4 linked regions of the Homo sapiens genome follow. The protein of the gene in region 3 purifies or fractionates together with the protein of the main gene of each other region. This does not show direct contact. Each region holds a gene or a part of one and is shown on either strand. Other genes may lie near its edges.

What was found.
Region 1: the proteins of IRF5 (region 3) and PSMB7 purify together in Homo sapiens (affinity purification with mass spectrometry; one large-scale study listed by BioGRID and IntAct). This does not show direct contact.
Region 2: the proteins of IRF5 (region 3) and OGA purify together in Homo sapiens (affinity purification with western blotting; one study listed by BioGRID). This does not show direct contact.
Region 4: the proteins of IRF5 (region 3) and CEP152 purify together in Homo sapiens (affinity purification with mass spectrometry; one large-scale study listed by BioGRID and IntAct). This does not show direct contact.

The regions. Positions count from the first base shown.
Region 1 is NC_000009.12:124,408,943-124,412,442, forward strand, and holds part of PSMB7 (proteasome subunit beta type-7 precursor), read right to left. Parts: coding exon 3,410-3,500; intron 1-3,409. UniProt on the Homo sapiens protein: Component of the 20S core proteasome complex involved in the proteolytic degradation of most intracellular proteins. This complex plays numerous essential roles within the cell by associating with different regulatory particles.
Region 2 is NC_000010.11:101,811,945-101,815,444, reverse strand, and holds part of OGA (protein O-GlcNAcase), read left to right. Parts: intron 1-1,838; coding exon 1,839-1,890; intron 1,891-2,317; coding exon 2,318-2,415; intron 2,416-3,138; exon of another isoform or gene 3,139-3,193; coding exon of another isoform or gene 3,194-3,197; intron 3,198-3,500.
Region 3 is NC_000007.14:128,940,927-128,944,426, forward strand, and holds part of IRF5 (interferon regulatory factor 5), read left to right. Parts: exon of another isoform or gene 1-498; intron 499-1,144; 5' UTR 1,145-1,155; coding exon 1,156-1,350; intron 1,351-3,500. UniProt on the Homo sapiens protein: Transcription factor that plays a critical role in innate immunity by activating expression of type I interferon (IFN) IFNA and INFB and inflammatory cytokines downstream of endolysosomal toll-like receptors TLR7, TLR8 and TLR9.
Region 4 is NC_000015.10:48,755,570-48,759,069, reverse strand, and holds part of CEP152 (centrosomal protein of 152 kDa), read left to right. Parts: intron 1-2,516; coding exon 2,517-3,167; intron 3,168-3,500. UniProt on the Homo sapiens protein: Necessary for centrosome duplication; the function also seems to involve CEP63, CDK5RAP2 and WDR62 through a stepwise assembled complex at the centrosome that recruits CDK2 required for centriole duplication.

The DNA of each region.
Region 1 (3,500 bases), on a different chromosome or scaffold from region 3:
ATGCACTGTTAGGTGAGAAGACTAGGCTATACTACAGTCAGTACAACTATAATCCCATTTTCTAAATATTACTGAACTTATTTTTAAAACCTTGAAGGGTGTGTAACAATCTCTTAGCACTAACTGCTCGTGGGTGGCAGGAATCCAGGTAGTTTTTTACATTCTTTTTGTTCATATCTTCCAGCTTTGTTTTGTTTTTACCATGAACATGTACTAGCAATATAAAAGGAAGAGAGGAAGGGAAGAACTTAAGAGACAGAAGACTGGAATAACATACACCAAACCAAGAGTGATGCTCCCTGAATGGCAAAGTTTTCATTTTGTTCTTTGGGCTTTTCAGTATTTTCTAAATTTCCTACAATAAATGTACATTATGTTTATAAGAAAAAAAGTTACAATATAAGAGTCTCTACGTATTCAAGTAATAGTTTCTAGAACACACAACAGCATTTCACTAACATTTTTATGAAACTCAACAAGGAGGTTCCATGCTCACAGAACAAGCATTACTTACATCAACTACATATAGCCAGGATAGGTGTGAGATAAAGGCAGTGCTTAAGTAAGGGAAAAGACATCACTTCTGCTTATCAAACCTTATTTTCTCACTGACTCACATACAAGGAAATGGGCTGTTCAGAAAAAAAAAGTACAGCAGTACCAAGAACACCTTGTACTCTTTTTCAGACTGAATTTTACGGGGCTCTAACTACGCAGTAGGCTCTGTAGTATGCAAGGTCAGAGCCTAGCTTCTTTATTCCTGTCCTCCTCAAAAGTCAGATAGACAGAAACTATTATCCTCATTTTATTGAGAAAGAATCACCCAAATTTATACGACAGTCAGTGCTGTAGGTGGGAGATGAACCAAAGTTCTAAAATCAAATCCTAAACTCTTTCCTTATACCACTCTCATTTTATGTAACTCACCAAAAATGTTAAGAGGACATAAAAGACTATAATTATGCTGGTTTATATTTTTAAATGGTCCTCAAATTTTGATAAAATTTAACTTTTACAAAGTATCTTGAACTAAAAAATGACAAAACACTGAAAAAAGAGAATTTAGAATTTTTTTTTTTTTTTTGAGACGGAGTCTCGCACTTTCACCCAGGCTGGAGTACAGTGGCACAATCTCGGCTCACTGCCAAGCTCCACCTCCCGGGTTCATGCCATTCTCCTGTAGCTAGGACTACAGGCGCCCGCCACCACGCCCGGCTAATTTTTTGTAATTTTAGTAGAGATGGGGTTTCACCATGTTAGCCAGGATGGTCTCAATCTCCTGACCTTGTGATCTGCCTGCCTCGGCCCCCCAAAGTGCTGAGATTACAGGCATGAGCCACCGCGCCCAGCCGAGATGTTAGGATTCTTAAAACATTCTGAAGTGATTAACAGAAACATTTGCTAGATTTTTTTGCTAATTGTTTTAAATGACATTACAAAGAATCTTGAAACATCTTATTTGCAGCAATTTTACAAGCTTAAAAATTGCCTTTATTACATAGACACATCGTGTAGAAAAAAAGTTTTCAAAAAAGCCTTATATATAATGTACCAAGCAAGCCACCAGAGGGAGCTTTATATTTAAAATTAAAATCCACAAATCTTTTCAGAAATCTGATCAATAGGTGTGCTTTAACAAGTTCTACTCACTGTACTGGGAGAATTTGGTTGGCAATAATTCTCCTGGATTAGAATAATGATACGTACACAAACATAAAGCAGCAATTGGATAGACAAGGCTTCCTATCCATATGACTCTAGGCTTTGGTCTCATTTGTAAAATGGGAACTATACTACTGGCCTTGCTACAACCTCATATACACTACTGAAAACCCACAGGCCATGCTAGACACATAGATGAGGACCCGCAAATTATCAGGAAGGCCAGGGCCCTGAAGGGAACAGTGAAGTGAGCCAGGCAGAGAAAGTGACAGAGCACCCACTCCCACTTCTAAGGCAACAACCACCAATGAGTTCCCGAAGATTACGGCCACATGTTTCCAATGTTTTCAAAAGACAGAAATCTAGACTTTTTTTTTTTCTTTTTTTTTGAGACGGAGTCTTCTTCTGTCACCCAGGCTAGAGTGCAGTGGCGTGATCTTGGCTCACGGCAACCTCCACCTTCCAGGTTCAAGCGATTCTCCTGTCTCAGCCTCCCAAGTAGCTGGGATTACAGGCAAGCGCCACCATGCCCGGCTATTTTTGTACTTTTAGTAGAGATGTTTCACCATGTTGGCCAGGCTGGTCTCGAACTCCTTACCTCAGGTGATCCGCCAACCTTGGCCTCCCAAAGTGCTGGGATTACAGGCGTGTGCCACCGTGCCAAGCCAAAATCTAGACTTTTAATTCAAATCTCCCCATTTACAATTGTTAGCCACTATTTAAAAAGAAAAAAAGGCCATATGACCCAAACAAATTTCCCTACAAGCTGATGGCCTATGAGCCACCAGTTTAAAATCTTTACTGTCTATCCGTGCTCCCCTTTAATTCTCACAACCACCCCACTAGGGGCAGGTATTATGATATCCATTCTACACAGAAGGAAAAAGGCAAAGAATTTGTTAAAGGTAAGGCAAGTCCCAAAAGGAGAAGCCAGTATTCCAACCCAAGACTAAATGCCCAGGCTACTTCTCCTAAAATCACTGCCTCTCTTATGAGAAGCAAATGAGAAAACACACTTTGAAAACTGCCAAGACCCATACAAACATAAAGTAATGACGCAATTATTAAAGGAGAAAGAGAAACAAAACTACTAATATGAGCTGTGAGTCAGCAGAGAATGAAGGTCAGGTCAGGCAAGCTACTGCACCTCTTTAAACCTCAATTTCTTCACTTACAAATAGGAGACGCTAATAGTCCCTATCTCAGAGTTAAAAGGATGAAATCGTGCATAAAGCGCTTTAGCATAGGTCCTGGAACAGAGTAAGAGGTAGATAAAGGTTGGTTAATATTAATATTATCATACCCACTGACAGCCAATTATAAATATCACTTTTCATTCACTGTTATTTTGCCCCTAAAGGGAGGGGGTGGGGGGAAGGAGAGACAATCATTTGGGTTTGTGTTTATGGGGAGGAGAGAGTAGTTTCACAAGACAACTTGATAGTTCCTCCAGCTATAACTTTCTTACCGTGAACAAAAAAGTTTCTCTTATCCAGTAATATCCCTATGCTCCAGGAAATGACTCAACTGGTGACATGTGATTTACTCATGAAAAAAATCAGGCCCCAGAAATTCAAATGCACCATCAAAAACCATTTAAAATGGCTCTTTAATATAACAACTGATTTCCGGAACAAAATGTGTATTTCTGAATGTGTTTTTGCTACTTTCCAGGCTTCTCTTGGCTGAAAAAAATCTAAGATATGAGAAGAAGATACTAGTAGGAATCCCCATTCTGGAAACTTACCTGAAAAGCATCTGCTTCAGCATCCGATTGGCTGTCACAACTCTGGGAAGACGGCCAGTGGAGAGGGAGTGGAGCTCCAGGTTGGAAGAAA
Region 2 (3,500 bases), on a different chromosome or scaffold from region 3:
GGCGTGGTGGCGGGCTCCTGTAATCCCAACTACTCGGGAGGCTGAGACAGGAGAATCGCTTGAACCCGGGAGTTGGAGGCGTAGATTGCATTGAGCCGAGATAGTGCCACTGCACTCCAGCCTGGGCGACAGAGTGAGATTCCGCCTGAGAAAAAAAAAAAAGAATATTTTGTATCACTTGTGAGAGGCTAACATTAGATTGTCCAGATGAAAGTGCTACAGTTATACATTGGTATGTAATGAATTTTAATTTGGTCTGTCATTGTCCTTTTTGTGGTGCAGAGGAGTCATTCTGCCTAGAGATTGGAGCTAAAATACATTGCAGAAATTTGTTTTAGACTAGTCTCTTATGTAGATTGTGTGGGTTTATGTAGAACATTTTGTGTTCAGAATGCTTTTATTAACCTTCTTCATGGTACTCTTGAGAGGCTGTCCTTATCTCTTACTGATGATTAGACTGAGACAAGTGGAAAGTAAAGGTTAGACAAGATGTAAAGTGTGTGGTTTGAGCTGTGATGAGCACACTAGGGAGTTCCAGATACCAGTTTGATGCTTATTCAACCATTTAGGTTATCGGTCTGCGAGTTTGTTTTCTGCAGTGTGTGCATAACTAGTGTTTTGTCCTCTTAGAGGATACTCTGGGGACATTCTTGAGTTTTCTTTGTTTATTCCTTTCCGTTTAAGGACCAGAAGTAATATTCTTGAATTTTCATTTGTTCAGATCTTTGCTCTGTAATTAAGATTGCGTGAGAGTTTGTTGTTTGGGCCAGTTAGGCTGTTGAATTTCTTGGGAATGTGGTTTCAGGCATTTTTTGGTCCCTTTGATTATATCATTGTATGTGGAACTTTTTTTGAGAGAGAGAGTTTTGCTCTGTCACCTAGGCTGGAATGCAATGGCGCGGATCTTGGCTCACCGCAGCCTCCGCCTCCTGGATTCAAGCAGTTCTCCTGCCCTAGCCTCCCAAGTAACTGGAATTCCAGTCCTGGCCAGGAACTTTTTTTAAAAAAGAGGAGCACGATCATAAAATTAAGTCAGATTCTTTCCTAATCCTATCTCTGATTTGTTTTTAATTGCTTTACCTGTTTATCTCCCCTCACCCTTTTGTTGTTGTTGTTTGAGATGGAGTCTTGCTCTGTAGCCCAGGCTGTAGTGCAGTGACGCAGTCTCGGCTCACTGCAAGTCCGTCTCCCAGGTTCAAGTGATTGTTGTTTCTCAGCCTCCCAAATAGCTGGGATTACAGGCATTTGCCACCATACCTGGCTAATTTTTGTATTTTTAGTAGAGACATGGTTTCACCATGTTGGCCAGGCTGGGTCTGGAACTCCTGACCTCAAGTGATCTACCTGCCTCAGCCTCCCAAAGTGCTGGGATTACAGGCGTGGGTCACCTCACCCGGCCTCCCCTCACCCTTTCTAAAGCAGTTTTACTATCATTCTAGGAAGTAATTGTTACTGTTGGCAGCTTGTATTACATTGCTGCCGTTCCCCATTATAAGATTGAGATCTCTTAAAAAATTGGAATTAAATATATTTGGACTTTATCAACAGTGGAAAGATGATAGATGTTTGTTTTAAAATAACTATCACCTAAGTAACTAATGTCATGGTAGAAAAAATAAAAAAAATTACCTAAGCAAAAATGGAATAAAAGTCACCTTGTAACGTCACCACCCAAAGATTAAAGGAACCTTAGTATTTTATTAAATATCCTTCCGATTTGGTGTATTTTATGCTTTTTACAAAATAGGATTGTATTATATGTTTTGTAACTTGCTTTTCTCAATAAAGCTTACCACATTTTAAAACTGAATATAATTTCATTCTTACTTTGAATCTAGGATTTTATGGAAGACCTTGGGTTATGGAACAGAGAAAAGAACTCTTTAGAAGGTAAATCTTCATTATATGAAGGAGAGAGGAGAACCTTAAACTCTTAACATTTTCTTTTGTTTGAAGAAATACTAACAGTGAATAGCCCAGGTGCATTTTGATGGTTTCTCAATTGCAGAAGTTATTTTACCTTGGTCCCTTTTTTCTTCACCTAGGCCTTTGATTTTCAAACTTTTCCTGGGGAGCTGAATAAGTTTTGGGCTTCACCTTACCCAGAGCTGTTGTGTTTTTTAAGAGTGTTTTGTATGTTGGCATACATTGTAATACTTAATTTTTTTAAATTCCACTGATTACAAAAAGGTTAAAAGCTACTGTCATAGAATATTAGCTTTGTATGAGATGGAGATGCTCCAAGAAGAGGGAAATGGAGATTGACAGCCTATGAATGTTGCCTGTTTATACATATGTAATTTTCTTTCTCCTTAAGGCTCCAGAAATGGGAATTAAATACATACTTGTATGCCCCAAAAGATGACTACAAACATAGGATGTTTTGGCGAGAGATGTATTCAGTGGAGGAAGCTGGTAATCTTTTTCTTTTTATCCATAAATTCAAAATCTGTGAAGAAAACGGTTATATTTTAAATGTAGTTGTACAAGAATTTTATGACATTTTATTTTTATTTTGTAGGTAGTTTCCTTTTCTTCTATCTGGTAACTATTCAGTTAGCTGAGATTGAAAGAGTGCTCTGCGCTAGCAAGGTCATGACCATATGTGTGATATCATGGGCGTGCTAGGCTGACTCCATCTGTTCTGTGGTCATAGATTGTGCTGCTTACTTCTGCCAGTGGATTAAACAGTGGGCCACTGGGCAAAGAAGTGCTGGAGCTGGGCTAGGCCCAGGGCAAGGCAAGTGAGGCACGTACCTTGGGTGCAAATTTTAAGGGACCCCCAAAAAGTAATCAACATAAATAATATTTTATGCAATTTTTTTAAAAAACCAAAATTAATGCAGAAATTCATGATGTACACAATGCTAAAATTTTAGGTAAAGACAGGATCAGCACTACTGATTGTTCCTTTTGCTTCAGGCTCTAGTATGGCTTGGCCTTGTCAGCAGTTACTGGTCCTTAAACCCTAGTCCAGGAAAGTGGGAAGCCATTAATAGGCTGTCTTTGGGTTTTGTTTTGTTTTGTTTTGTTTTTTGAGACAGAGTCTTGCTCTGTCCCCCAGGCTGGAGTGCAGTGGTGCGATCTCGGCTAACTGCAAACCTCGCCCTCCCGAGTTCAAGAGATTCTGCTGCCTCAGCCTCCCAAAGTGCTGGGATTACAGGCTTGAGCTCCTGTGCCCGGCCGGCCTGCTATGGGTATACTTAACGTTGAGTTGGTTACATAAAATTGATAAAAAGTAGTATAGCATTGAACCGCCAAATTAGAGAGGTGCTTTTCTTTGGGAACTTGTAAATGGTGAAACATTTTTGTACTTGAAATTAAATGGTATACGCATATAGCTAACAAGATATTTGGTTACAGAGCCCAGCCAAGGCACAGAAGGCTGAAAGTTTTCTTGAATTACAAAGAAGCAATTACAGCTTACCCCATCTCCATCTAGTGTTGTGGTTTACTACTCTATTTAAGTGTGCCTTCAACTTAATTACTTTCTGGTGGTG
Region 3 (3,500 bases):
AAGCAGGCCCAGACACAGGGAGTTCAGCTCGAACGTTTGCTCCTTACTTGCTGACCGACACATTCACTTCTGATGGGCTGTGCTGTGTAATGACCCAGTCCTTTCTGTCTTCCACCCAGGGGTCTCAAGTGAAGGGCCAAGGGCATGGGTAAGGGGAGGAGAGGGACAGAAGGGGACTCAGGACTGTGGAGAGTTTCCGGTTCTGGGCTGGAGAGGGAGTTGGGCAGGTGAAGGGGAGGAGGCAGGGTCCCTCTGGCCTGACTCCAGGGAGGCAGTGAAGCTGTGGCCTGGGAGGCGGGGCTCGTGCCCCTGGGTAGGTAGCAGTTAGAGCTGTGGCTTCTGTTTCCTGTAGCCTTCCTAACAGGCTCCGGCAGGCGTTAGGGCCTTCCTAAGTGCTACCCGAATGCGTGTCCAGTGGGAGGAGAAGGGGGAGGACCAAGAACCTAGATGAATGGCCCTAGAGAGGTAACATCTGTTTGGTGCCTGCTGTCATTGGAGGTGGGTTGAGTTGGTTGATGGGATTTCTCTAAAGATATTGAGAAACTGCTTTCCTCTGAGGGCAGGTGTCCTTGGGAGCTCCAGATGAGATTCTTGTTGAGGGCATCTCCGGAGGGAACTCTCAGGGGATGGAGGGTGAGAAAACTTGGGCAGGGAAGAATCGAACTAGGGGTGTAGACTGAGCAGGAGGCTGTCTTCGGGCTGATCCCACAGAGCGCTCGCTGTCCCAGGTAGCCAGCTTGAGACAAGACAGCCGGGCTTTTGGTGTCAGGCAGTCACTGGCTGTGGGCTGCCCCCCAAGAGCAAGGGGTGGGCCTAACCTGTGGTGTGAGTAGTGGAAGGCGGTTCTCTGGCCAACGGGCTGCTTGCTGCTGTTAGCAGTTGGAGAATGGATGCCTCTGCCCGGTAAAGGGCACCTGGGGCCGCGCCCGCAGCATTCACTAACTCGTAACTCTCCTTCCCTTCCTCCAAACACAAAATTCCATGACACTAGACAAGAAAGCTGATGCTTGGAAAAGAGAATTGGCCTTAAATACCTAGATGGACTGGAGAGACCATCCTTTGTGGTCCATAGCTTGACCTCTGAGTACCCTGTCCCCATCCACCTGCAGACCTGCTGAGGCTCCCCTCTGGCTTTCTCCTGCAGACCCCTCTGCCATGAACCAGTCCATCCCAGTGGCTCCCACCCCACCCCGCCGCGTGCGGCTGAAGCCCTGGCTGGTGGCCCAGGTGAACAGCTGCCAGTACCCAGGGCTTCAATGGGTCAACGGGGAAAAGAAATTATTCTGCATCCCCTGGAGGCATGCCACAAGGCATGGTCCCAGCCAGGACGGAGATAACACCATCTTCAAGGTAAGCCCCGGGGAGGAGGTTGGCTGGACCTCCAGGGCACCCTGTCCCCAGAAGAGGAGCGCACATAACGCACACAGGCAGCTCCTCGAGGCTGGCCACCCGCCCAGCTACCATGCTGCTGCTGATGCCGGGCCCGGACTAAGGGGATGCAGACGTAGACACAGGGTACACCTTTTTCCTTTTTTTTTTTTTTTAAGACAGAGTCTCGCTCTGTAGCCCAGGCTGGAGTGCAGTGGCACGATCTCAGCTCACTGCAACCTCTGCCTCCTGGGTTCAAGCAATTCTCCTGCCTCAGCCTCCTGAGTAGCTGGGATTACAGGCATGAGCCACCACGCCTGGCCTAGGGCACATCTTTTCTAACCTGCACCCTAGAGCATCGTGGGGACTGAGGGTCCCCAGAAGGCCTTCCCATAACTCGTCCTACTCACCCTTTGCTCGTCTCACTCCTATTACTCATGAGGACTTGTTCAGTGCACGCATATGCTAAAGGAAGCCAACGATCATCATCTTTCTAAAAATTTTATTTTTAAATTAGTATATATTTATGGGGTACACAGTGGTGATTTGATAAGCACAGTGATCAGATCAGGTACTTAGCATATCCATAATCTCAAACATTTGTCATTTCTTTGTGTTGGGAACAAACTATTTTTAATATAAGATTCAGATACATCATCAATCTTTCAATTGTTTAAATTTTCTAATTTTTTTTAGAGACAGGGCCTCACACTGTTGACCAGATTCCAATTTTTTTTTTTTTTTTTTTTTTTTTTTTGAGACAGGGTCTCACTCTGTCACCCAGGCTGGAGTGCAGTGGCTTGATCTCAGCTCACTGCAGCCTCGACCTCCCAGGCTCAGGTGAGTCTCCCATCTCAACCTCCTTGAGTAGCTGGGATTACAGGTGCCTGCCACCACAACTGGCTAATTTTTTGTACTTTTAGTAGAGACTTTGCCATGTTGCCCAGGCTGGTCTTGAACTCCTGGACTCAAGCAATCCACCCACCTCAGCCTCCCAGAGTGCTGGGATTACAGGTGTGAGCCACCATGCCCGGCCCAATCTTTTTTTTTAATTGATGTACTACAACTGTACATATATACTCTTTTTTTTTTTTTTTGAGATGAGTTGTTGCTCTGTTGCCTAGTGTTGCACCATTGGTGAGCAGTGGTGCAGTCATAGCACAACCTCCAACTCAGCTCAAGTGATCCTCCAGTCTCAGCTTCCTGAGTAGCCGTGACTACAGGTGCATGCCACCATGCCCAGCTAATTTTTTTTTTTTTTTTTGAGATGGAGTCTTGCTTTTTCACCCTAGCTGGAGTGCAATGGCACAATCTCAGCTCACTGCAACCTCTGCCACCTGGGTTCAAGCAATTCTCCTGCCTCAGCCTCCCGAGTAGCTAGGATTACAGGCACCTGCCACCATGCCCGGCTAATTTTTTTTTTTTTTTTTTTTTTTTTTTTTTTTTTTGTATTTTTGGTAAAGACAGGGTTTCACCCTGTTGGCCAGGCTGGTCTTGAACTCCTGACCTCATGATCCACCTGCCTTGGCCTCCCAAAGTGCTGGGATTACAGGCGTGAGCCACCGTGCCCAGCCTAATTTTTTGATTTTGATATTTGTAAAGATGAGGTCTCACTTTGTTGCCCAGGCTGGTCTCAAGCTCATGGGCTCAAGTGATCCTCCCACCTCAGCCTCCTGAGTAGCTGGTATCACAGGCGCAAGCCACTGTGCTCTCTCCAATAATCTTAATGCTAGGATGTACCTCGCATAATAGTTTTTGCTTACATTTTAGTTTTTTTGCACATGTGTGTATATGGAATGCAAAATTGGAATCAAGTGAATATCTTGATTTATAGCCTGGATTTTTTTCACCCAATATCAGGATCAGCTTTCCTTTCCAACATACGTCCACATCACTTTTCGTGACTGTAGAATTTCCACTGGAATGGTTTAGCACAATTTGGTCACTGAGTCTTGGTTTTTAGATACTTGAGATTGCTTTTAAAACCTGAACTTAAAAACCACATTGTCATGTAGGCTGTCTTAATGCTTCCCTTTTTTTCATCCTCAATTATTTTGGGGGTTGATTTCCTAGAGTTGAAAATTGCTGGGTCAAAGGCAATGCTTATTTTTTAAAACTTTGGGTACATATTT
Region 4 (3,500 bases), on a different chromosome or scaffold from region 3:
TGAAATATTTTAAAAGGAAATTTAAGAGGGAGAGAGAGAAGAAACAATATGATTGTGAGGATATGTGTCTCAGAGCTCAGAAGTCAAGTAGAATAGTAAAGTTGAGTACAATGTAGAAAATAAAACAGGCCAAGAGATCTTTTCATAAGAACATAGAAGGCTGTATGTTTGTGAAAGCAGACATATAGAAATGAGAGAAAAGTGTTTTTGTTGCTTCTCAAACTTCAGCAGGCCTGAGAATCACTTGCAGGGTTTGTTAAAGCATAGCTATCTGGGCTTTCCTCCTAGAGATAATGATATAGTAGGTCTGGAGGGTGTCCTGGGAATTTGCCTTTTTTTTTTTTTTTTTTTGAGATGGAGTCTTGCTGTGTTTCCCAGGCTGGAGTGCAGTGGCACAATCTCAGCTCACTGCAACCTCTACCTCCTGGGTTCAAGCGATTCTCCTGCCTCTGCCTCCCAAGTAGCTGGGATTATAGGTGCCCGCTACCTCGCCTGGCTAATTTTTGTATTTTTAGTAGAGATGAGGTTTCACCATATTGGCCAGGCTGGTCTTGAACTCCTGATCTCAGATGATCTTGCCCACCTCGGCCTCCCAAAGTGCTGGGATTACAGGTGGGAGTCACCGCACCTGGCTGGAATTTGCATTTCTAACAGGCTCCCAGCTGGTCTTTGGACTACACTTGGATGTAAGTAGCACTATTCCAGATAATTATATCAGCCACAAAAAATAATGTCAACATGTTGTGCATCCTTCCTCCAAACCAAAAGAGGTCCAGAAAGGGCCGGTTCCATAGCATTGGCTATAGAGTTATTTTAAGATTAGAGTGATTAGTTGAGATCTGTGACAGTGTGAAGACAGTTTCTAGAATTCAGAAGTAGTTAAGTTGGTTCAGTGGTTCTCAAACTTTGCTGCACATTGGAATAACTTGAGGATCTTTAAAAAATACTGTTGCCTGGCCCCTACCCTTAAACTTTGTTTTGTATGGGCCCTGGCCTGGGCATCAGGATTTTTAAAAGCTGCTCAGGTGATTCTAATGTGCAGCAAAGTTTGGGAAGCACTGAGTTGATGAATGCTGTCAAATTCTCTTTGTAAAACTTCACATGAGAAAATGCACATTTTGGTAAGGTTGGGCAGGTTATAAAAATTCTGTGGAATCCATCACCTCTATCCGAGTCACCTGGGAATGACTTCCAGGCATCCATTGCAACATGACCTGTTTTCTCTAAAAACACTATTTAAACATGTTTCAAATCACTACTGAATTATTCTGCTGGTAGCAAAGGAATTTTGCAGTGAATTCTTTTGTAAAGCTCACCTTAGATAGTGGGTTCCTTTAGCAGAAAATTTATTTAGTAGGTACTCTATCCCATCATCCCAGCCATATATATAGTATTGATCAATGGTAACCACCATTGTCTAGGCCAAGCCTTTGGAGATGCCCAGTTCTGTCTTTTGACACTAGTGCGTCCTTGTGCCTTCTTTGAATTCAGTTAGGAATTCAGTCAGGAATATTAAAAGTGAAAGGGACTCAAGGCCATTATCTACTCTACTCCTTTATATAGGTGAAGATGTTAGTGCCAAAGAGATTAAGTGACTTTTGCAAGGCCATGCATCCAAAAGTAATAACTACATAAGATTTATTGAGTCCTTATCATCTGCCAGGCTCTGGGCTAAGTACTTTAAATGGATTATGTCCTTATGTCATTTAATCCTAAAGGATGCTATCAAATTGGCATTGTAATTATCCCCATTTTATAGATGAGGAAATTGAGGCTCAAAGAAGTTGAGGAATGGGCCTTTAGTTCTTCAGCTGGTAAGTTAATTCCAGCAGTTTGTCTCCAGATTCTGTTCTGTTAAGCATCTGTGCTAGGCTTCCTCTGCAAATTGGTGTCAGGATTGGAGCTTAGGTTTTTTGATTTCGCTATTACTTTTTAGTTATGTACTACCTGTTTTTTTCTGTGATCCACTAGTTCTATTATTCTGTCATACAAACAAATTAGACTAATGAAAAATGACTTTTTCTGTTTGGTATTGTCCTTTAATGAACTGTTCTAGCCACTAAAAGTGCATTAAAATACAGTTACACTTATCAGCAAGTAATTATGCAGGTGTGTGCTATATTCCTAAGTAATAGTAAAAAATCCTTATGAGTCCGCTTTTGCTTTAGGTAAAAGATACTTAATTTGTTGGGGGCACAGATAAAATTTGAGATTGTATCTGTATTAAGAAAAGTAATATGAAATTTTTTCTCACATTAGTTTTGGCTAATTATATAATTATATGTGTGAGTGTTTATGTGTCTATACATACATATAAACATATTTATGTATATATTTTGACCAATTTTAGTGTAAGTATAGTTTTTAGAATAATGTCTTATCTAAAATCATGTTTCCTTTTAATTTTGATTTTACATTTCCTAGCTTCAGAGGTTAACCAAAATAGTTACCTTAATTTTTTTGCGAAGGAGGAGAATCATAAAGACTTTCAAAATGCATGTTGTTATGTTCTTTAGATATCATTTGCTGTTTCTGAAGCTAAAGAGAAATGGAAGAGTGAGCTTGAAAATATGAGGAAAAATATACTTCCTGGAAAGGAATTGGAAGAGAAGATTCATTCTCTTCAGAAGGAACTTGAGTTAAAGAACGAAGAAGTCCCTGTGGTCATCAGGGCTGAGTTAGCTAAGGCTCGGAGTGAATGGAACAAAGAAAAGCAAGAAGAAATCCACAGAATCCAAGAACAAAATGAGCAAGATTACCGGCAATTTTTAGATGATCACCGAAATAAAATTAATGAGGTGCTTGCGGCAGCTAAAGAAGACTTTATGAAACAAAAAACTGAACTACTTCTTCAGAAGGAGACAGAATTACAAACTTGTCTAGACCAGAGTCGTAGAGAATGGACTATGCAGGAAGCCAAGCGGATCCAACTGGAAATCTATCAGTATGAGGAAGACATCCTGACTGTACTTGGGGTTCTTTTAAGTGATACCCAAAAGGAGCACATCAGTGATTCTGAGGACAAGCAGCTTTTGGAAATCATGTCGACTTGTTCTTCAAAATGGATGTCTGTGCAATATTTTGAAAAACTAAAGGGCTGCATACAGAAAGCATTTCAAGATACACTTCCTCTGCTTGTAGAAAACGCTGACCCAGAATGGAAAAAGGTATGTTCCTGAGAGTGAGAGAAGGTATTGAACACCAAGAATGATTATAGAAGTTGTATATAGTGTTTTTTCCTTTTTTCCTTTTAAATTTTAGTAGATGTAAGTCTTATGTTTTTGTCAGTGGTTTAAAAAAGTTTCTGTAGCGAAATCCAAAGGTTTGCATGTTTCGTTGCCAAAAAACTTTACTACTTCATAGTGTCACAAATACAAGACAAGATTTTAGCCTCTAAATATCTTTTTCCTAAAGAATATTTAGGACAAATACCTAATGCATGCGGGGCCTAAAACCTAGATGACAGGTTGATAGGTGCAGCAAACCACCATGGCACATGT